Homo sapiens: one gene and its partner. The protein of the gene in region 1 purifies or fractionates together with the protein of each later gene. This does not show direct contact. Each region holds a gene or a part of one and is shown in the gene's direction. Other genes may lie near its edges. The genes, in order: ZBTB43 and TBC1D2.

Region 1 (3,808 bases):
TAATGATGACATTTTCCTAGTCACTCAGTCATGAAATTCAAAGTCGGCATTGGTACATCAGTTTGCCTTGCATTACTCTTTATTTTATTTATTTCTATTTTTTTGGGATGGAGTCTCACTCTGTCGCCCAGGCTGGAGTGCAGTGGGGTAATCTTGGCTCACTGCAGCCTCCGCCTCCTGGGTTCAAGTGATTCTTCTGCCTCAGCCTCCCGAGTAGCTGGGACTACAGGCACCCACCACCACACGCAGCTAATTTTTGTGTTTTTAGTAGAGACGGGGTTTCACCATATTAGTCAGGCTGGTCTCGAACTCCCGACCTTGTGATCCACCCACCTCGGCCTCCCGAAGTGCTGGGATTACAGGCGTGAGCCACCGCACCCGGCCACATTACTCTTTTTTAAACAGCTTTACAGAGACATAATTCATAAGTAATAAAGAGGTTTTTTTTTTGGTATATTCACAGATTTGTATACCCATCACCACAATCTAATTTTAGAACTTTTGTCTCCCCTCAAAGAAACCCAGTTAGCAGTTGCTCCCCATTTCTTCTACCTGTAGCCACGAATCTACTTTCTGTCTCTATGGATTTGTCTATTCTGGACATTTCATATAAGTGGAGTCATACAAGATACGGCCTTTTGTGTCCGACCTCTTTCATTTAGCATAACGTTTTCAAGTGCCAGCCGTGTTGTCACATCTATCAGTATTTCGTTCTTTTTTATTGCCAAACATCCTATTCTAAGGATATATCCTGTTTGTTTATCCAGTCATAAGTTGATGGAGCTTATGATGGTTTTCACTTTTTGGCTTTTAAGAATAATGCAGTTATGAACATTCATGTACGAGTTTTAGTGTGGACATCATATGTTTTCATTTTTCTTGGGTATGTACCTAGGAGAATTGTTGAATTAACGTGGTAACTCTATGTTTAACTCCCTGAGGTGCTGTCACACTGCTTTCCACAGTAGCTGTACCATTTTACATGCCCACCAGCAATGTATGGAGGTTATAATACCTACACATCCTCACCGACACCTGTTATTGTCTGTCTGTCTTTTGACAGCCATTTTAGTGAGTGAAAAGGGATGTTTAGTAGTTTTGATTTGCATTTTTCTAATTACTAATGATGTTGAGTGGTTTTCATATGCTTATAGGTTATTTGTATATCTTCTTTGGAGAAATGTCTCTTCAGATCCTTTATCTGTTTTTCAGTTGGGTTATTTATCTTTTTATTATTGAGTCATAAGAGTTCTTGAGGTATTCTGGATGCAAGTCACTCATTAGTTACATGATCTGCAAATAATTTCTCCTATTCTGTGGGTTGTGTGTTCACTTTCTTGATGGTATCATTTGTACCTTGTACTACTGCTGTATCTTCCTGCTGACCAGTTCTGTCAGTCTCATCAATGCCACCCCTTTTCCATACCCACTGTTACTTTTTTTTTTTTTCTTTTTTTTGAGATGTAGTTTTGCTCTTGTTGCCCAGGCTGGAGTGCTTTGGCATGATCTCGGCTCACTGCAACCTCCGCCTCCCAGGTTCAAGCAGTTCTGCTGTCTCAGCCTCCCGAATAGCTGGGATAACAGATGTGTGCCACCACGCCCGGCTAACTTTGTATTTTTAGTAGAGACAGGGTTTCACCATGTTGGCCAGGCCGGTCTGGAACTCCTGACTTCGAGTGATCCACGTGCCTCAGCCTCCCAAAATGCTGGGATAAAAGACGTGAGCCACCATGCCTGGCCCCACTGTTACTTTTATTACTACCTAGACTACACTTATTGAAATCCTATAATTAGCTTCTACTTCAGACTTTCTCCTGCTTTAGTCCGTCAGCAGATCAACCTTCCTTAACCATGCCTCACAGCACGTCACTTAGAAGTTTTCAGTGCTGCCCCAATGTAGACGTCTCATTCGGCTTTTTCTAGATTTATCTCCCATCACTCATTGTCACTCATAGAAGGAAGCACAAGTAATGATGTGTGTGTCACCAGGGTTAGTCTTGAGTGAAAGAGAGCCGAGGGAGATCTGAAATGGCTTTCTGATGGTAATTTCACCATAATCTAGGATCTTGCCGTTAGTGTGATTGGACCAATAACTCAGTGTCTTCAACATATCATACTTATGATGTACCAAACCCGCAAGAGATTAAAGTATACAAACCAGAATGCCATGTGATTTATAATTTTTCTTTCTATGTTAATAAGTGAGATTGGCTTGTAGGGTTTTTTTTGTTGTTGGCCAATTTTGATACCAGAGTTTTGTATAAAATTTATGAATTTTCTCCTACCCTATTGCCTTGTCCTCTTCTCCCCCTCTACTTTTTACATTTCTAGTTTTATCATATTGTGTAATCCATTGTATAGTCACATGTAATCAAATGTGCCCTGTGCATTTCCGCTTTGGAGAATTTATTGATGTTCTCTGTAGCCACGTATATTATCATTTTTGTAAATGTCCTACAGACAGTAGAAAAGGAGTATTATTTGTAGAGTATATAGGTATTGCATTAAATTAGCTTTATTGATAGCTGTCTAAACCTATAGATTCTTGTCCTTTGCCTACTTGATTTATTAAGAATTAAAGAGGGATACTTATATTTCCTGCTACAATTACAGTTCTGTTACTGTTGCCTTATTTTCTAACATTGTACTCTGACACATAAAAGTTCACAGAGTAAACTTCATTGTGAATTATAGGTTTCATCAGTTAACAATAAACTTTCATCCTGATTTTTACAGATGAAATTTACATCTGTAAAATTTTTACAGATGAAATTTACATCTGTAAAATGTAAATTTTACATCTGTAAAAATTTTACAGATGAAATTTACAAAGTAAATTTACATTGAAATTTACTTTGATATTAGTATTGTGTTGCTTGACTTTTGTTTTCATGTGACTTTTTTTTTTTTAAACTTTTGACCTTTTTGGTGATAAATTCTTTCAACTTTTCTATGTCTGAAAAAGTATTTTGGGCCGGGCGCGGTGGCTTACGCCTGTAATCCCAACACTTTGGGAGGCCGAGGTGGGCAGATCACGAGGTCAGGAGATCGAGACCATCCTGGCTAACACAGTGAAACACTGTCTCTACTAAAAATACAAAAAATTAGCCGGGCATGGTGGTGGATGCCCGTAGTCCCAGCTACTTGGGAGGCTGAGGCAGGAGAATGGTGTGAACCCAGGAGGCGGAGCTTGTAGTGAGCTGAGATTGCACCACTGTACTCCAGCCTGGGCAACAGAGCAAGACTCTGTCTAAAAAAGAAAGAAAGAAAGAAAGAAAAAGTATTTTGCCTTCACTTTGAAGATACTTTCATGGGTATAGAATTCTAAGTTGACAGGCCTTTCCGCCCCCTCCCCCACCTTCATTTCAGTATTTTAAAATGGTCTCCTGTCTCCTGGCTTGCATTGCTTCTGAGGTTCTCTGTACACAAGGGGCCTTTTTTTTGTCTGGCTGCTTTTAAGATTTTCTCCACTGATTTTAAGTGATTTGATTATGATGTGCCTTGCTGTAGTTTTTTTCATGTTTCTTGTGCTTGGAGTTTGTTGAGCTGCTTAGGTCTGTGAGTTCGTAGTTTTCATCAAATTTGAAAAAGTTTTGGCTGTTGTTTTCACATATGTATAAAATGTATGTGTGTATGTGTGTATTGTTTATATATATAGTTTTCAATATATAAAACTATATATATAGTTTTCAATATATAAAACTATATATATATAGTTTTCAATATATAAAACTATATATATATAGTTTTCAATATATAAAACTATATATATAGTTTTCAATATATAAAACTATATATATAGTTTTCA
Region 2 (3,828 bases), about 29 Mb from region 1:
CTGGCGGCCCAGGAAGGGCTGGTCTATGTGAGCTGGCGGCTCCTCCCCAGCTGCCTTGCTGCCAGGTCCTGCCAACCATGTACAAGTCCTACACAGCACTACCTCCTCTGATCTTCACATGCATTAGTGTGCGGCTGCAGCTGAGATGGTTCACGCTCAGAGGAGGCAGCCCCCTGCCATGGCCCTATAGTACATTTGCGGCACAGGCTGCCTCCAGAGCCCCATGCTTTCCATTTATCTAGGCTGCCTCCCAAATGTGGCTGCCTCCCAGATGTGCCTGTCAGAGAGGGGACGAGGGGAGACAAGCAGGCCATCTCCTCTGCACCAAGGCCTTGCTGAGCACAGTGGACATGGGCAGTTAAATATAACAGAAAGGAGGGTGGCTATGCTCGAAGGCCCCTGGAGGCTGAGTAGTCCAGTGGCAGGAGCTCGAGCTTTGGAGCCAGCCCTGGCCCTCTCACCGTGTGACAATTCCCTTTACCTTTCTGAGCCTCGTACTCAGCCTCCATAAGATATGTGCAAAGAGCTGGGCACAGTGGCTCATGCCTGTAATTCCAGCACTTTGGGAGGCTGAGATGGGCAGATTGCTTGAGGCCAGGAGTTTGAGCCCAGCCTGGGCAATATATTGGAATCCTGTCTCTACAAAAAAAAAAAAAAAAGAAGAGTGGTGGTGCACGCCTGTAGTCCCAGCTACTCGGAAGGCTGAGGTGGGAGGATCACTTGAGCCCAGAAGGTAGAAGCTGCAATGAGCTGAGATTGCAGCACTGCAGTCCAGCCTGGGCAACAGAGTGAGGCCCTGAAAAGAAAAGAAAAGAAAGGAAGGGGGGAAGGGAGGGAAAGAAAGAAAGAAAAAGAAAGGAAGGAAGGAAGGAAGGAAGGAAGGAAGGAAGGAAAGGAAGGAAGGAAAGGAAAGAAGGAAGGAAGGAAGGAAAAAAAAAAGATTTAGGCAAACACACCTGCTTTGCAGGATCATTAGGATTAAATGAGATAGTGCAGGCAGGGCACAGAGTGGAGGTGAGTCAACATTGAATAAATCAAAGGCCTTCTGGAACGGGTCCCCAGCTGTCCCACCTGTCTGTCATTGGTGCTGTCTGTTCCCCGTCCACCCCTGCGCTTACTGGCTGTGGTAAGTGGGGTTCTGTATGCACAGTGCAGGACTCCTTGGGCCTAAGGCTGCATGGAGTAATAAGAGGGTCCTTTATATTTGCATAGAATTAGTAAATATCTCTTGGGCATTTACTGTGTACCAGGCACTATCTAGGCCCCCAGCATCTTACAACAGAGGATCTCGTTGGGTCTTTAGGAGGCAGAGCAGGGATTCCCATATGCATTATACAGATTCGCAATCTGAGGTTGGGAGAACTGAAGTGACCTGCCCAGAGCTGTGTGGTTAACCCTCAGTGAAGGCAGGGCAGGAACCTGGCCTGGGGTCCTCCCTGTCACCACCACCCCTTATCTAGGGAAGGGCTCTGCAAGGTGTTGCTAACGTGCACTTTTGCTGGCAGTAAGTATGATGAGTACGGCTTCCTGACGGTGCCCGACTATGAGGTGGAAGACCTGAAGCTGCTGGCCAAGATCCAGGCATTGGAGTCACGATCCCACCACCTGCTGGGCCTCGAGGCTGTGGATCGGCCGCTGAGGGAGCGCTGGGCTGCCCTGGGCGATCTTGTGCCCTCAGCCGAGCTCAAGCAGCTACTGCGGGCAGGAGTACCCCGTGAACACCGGCCTCGTGTCTGGAGGTGGCTGGTCCACCTCCGTGTCCAGCACCTGCACACTCCAGGCTGCTACCAGGAACTGCTGAGCCGGGGCCAGGCCCGCGAGCACCCTGCTGCCCGCCAGATTGAGCTGGACCTGAACCGGACCTTCCCCAACAACAAACACTTCACCTGCCCCACCTCCAGCTTCCCCGACAAGCTCCGCCGGGTGCTGCTGGCCTTCTCCTGGCAGAACCCCACCATCGGCTACTGCCAGGGCCTGAACAGGTAAGCCACCAAAGCCCAGTGAAGGTGTGATCTTTACCTTTTGGAGCGCAGGTCCCCAACCCTCAGACTGTGGACAGGCAGCCATCTGTGGCCTGTTAAGGGGCCGCACAGCAGGAGGTGAGCAGTGGGCGAGAGAGCATTACCACCTGAGCTCTGCCTCCTGTCAGATCAGCGGCAGCATTAGATTCTCACAGGAGCGTGAACCCTATTGTGAACTCTGCATGCGAGGGATCTAGGTTATGTGTTCCTTATGAGAATCTAATGCCTGATGATCTGAGGTGGAGCAGTTTCAAAGCCACCCCTCCCCTACCCCAGTCCATGGAAAAATTGTCTTTCATGAAACCGGTCCCTAGTGCCAAAAAGGTTGGGGACCGTTGTTTTAGAGCACTGCTGTCTCTCTTTGGAGCCTCCCAAGAACCTGAAGACATGAGCCTAGGTTCCCCACCCACAGGCTGGTGAGAGGACATGTTCAAGACAGAGATGGGCCAGAGCTCAGAGCTCCAGGCCCCTCGTCCCTGCTCTCTCCTTTGATTTGTGCTTGGGGACGTACAACTTACATGGCCTCTCAAACTTTGGCCTGCTGGAATCTACAGGGTAAGGCCCCACTCACATATGGCAGGACTCTCTGGATCAGGAATCATTCGCTTTCAGTGAAACCCATGCAGAAGACCCGGGGAAAAGAGACTTTCTAAATGTTACAAGGGGAGTTCACAGAAGCCAGGAAAAGAAAACACAGCTGAGGACCAGATGGTCATTGGAAGCCAAGGCAGCTGCTGTCTGCAGCAGGGCTGCACCCCTGCACAACCCCAGGGGGCAGCCTTCATGCCACAGTCCTGGGATGCCATGACCTGAGCTCGTATAGCACCAAGGTACTGCTCTGCTGCCCTCTGCAGCTGCATGGCCTCTGGCCTCTCTTCATTCTGCGTGTCTGCTTCCTTCTCTCTCAGCAGACCAGCCTCTGTCCATTCATTCATTGGACATTTAGGGACCATCGAAGCTGTTAGAATGGAGACCTCAGCCCCTGAGTCTTGAGCCTTTCAGTGAGTCTTCCCACCCCACCCCTCATGTTCCAGTTCTAAATTCCCCAAAGAAAAAATCTGATTGGCCCAGCCAGGAATAATTTCCACTTCTGGTCCAATTGGTAGGGGACGCAGGGAGGGACTGGGGTTAGGGGATGAGGTCACCTGGTTCACAGGGCTATCTCCCCTCCAAGACTGTGAGGGACTGTCATCCCCCCGCTCCAGCCCCAGCTATTTCAGTAGAAGCTGCATAGTTGCAAATATTTTCCCAAAGCAAGTTTTCACTCGATTTAATTTAAACACACATATACCTAAGCAAAATTTACATAAGCCATGCTGCTTTTTTTTAGAATAGGTGGTGTGTGACATTTATTTAACACAGAATCAACATTCAGTGTCCTTACTCAAATTTGAGTGGTTCCCAAAGGTAGATATTTTTCATACTCTATTTCCAGCCTAAAATTGGGTGAAATTGAGCATGTGTATGTACAATTCCTGGGAATTAAGAGTTAAACTCCAACAGTAATGCCTCTCAGTCGAAGCCTCCTTGGAAAATATGTTCAGATTTCATGCCACACTAAACGTCTGCCACAGGTCAGGTCTGTAGAAATTTCATTCATTCAACAGTCTGACAAAAGCCCCTGTACTTCTCATTTGTTTGAACATGTTAAAATCCAGAAGAAACAAAACCTGCAAAGCCTCTTCTAAGAATAGCTGTGAAGGGAGCTGGAAGCTATGAGATCAGAATGAATAATAATTTTTGCATTTCACACAAAAGCCAGGTAGGAAGTAAAGCATAATGGGGGCCTCTTGGATGCCAGGTGTTT

Evidence for each region.
Region 2: the proteins of ZBTB43 (region 1) and TBC1D2 purify together in Homo sapiens (affinity purification with mass spectrometry; one large-scale study listed by BioGRID and IntAct). This does not show direct contact.

The regions. Positions count from the first base shown.
Region 1 is NC_000009.12:126,811,540-126,815,347, forward strand, and holds part of ZBTB43 (zinc finger and BTB domain-containing protein 43), read left to right. Parts: intron 1-3,808. UniProt on the Homo sapiens protein: May be involved in transcriptional regulation.
Region 2 is NC_000009.12:98,206,822-98,210,649, reverse strand, and holds part of TBC1D2 (TBC1 domain family member 2A), read left to right. Parts: intron 1-1,505; coding exon 1,506-1,982; intron 1,983-3,828. UniProt on the Homo sapiens protein: Acts as a GTPase-activating protein for RAB7A. Signal effector acting as a linker between RAC1 and RAB7A, leading to RAB7A inactivation and subsequent inhibition of cadherin degradation and reduced cell-cell adhesion.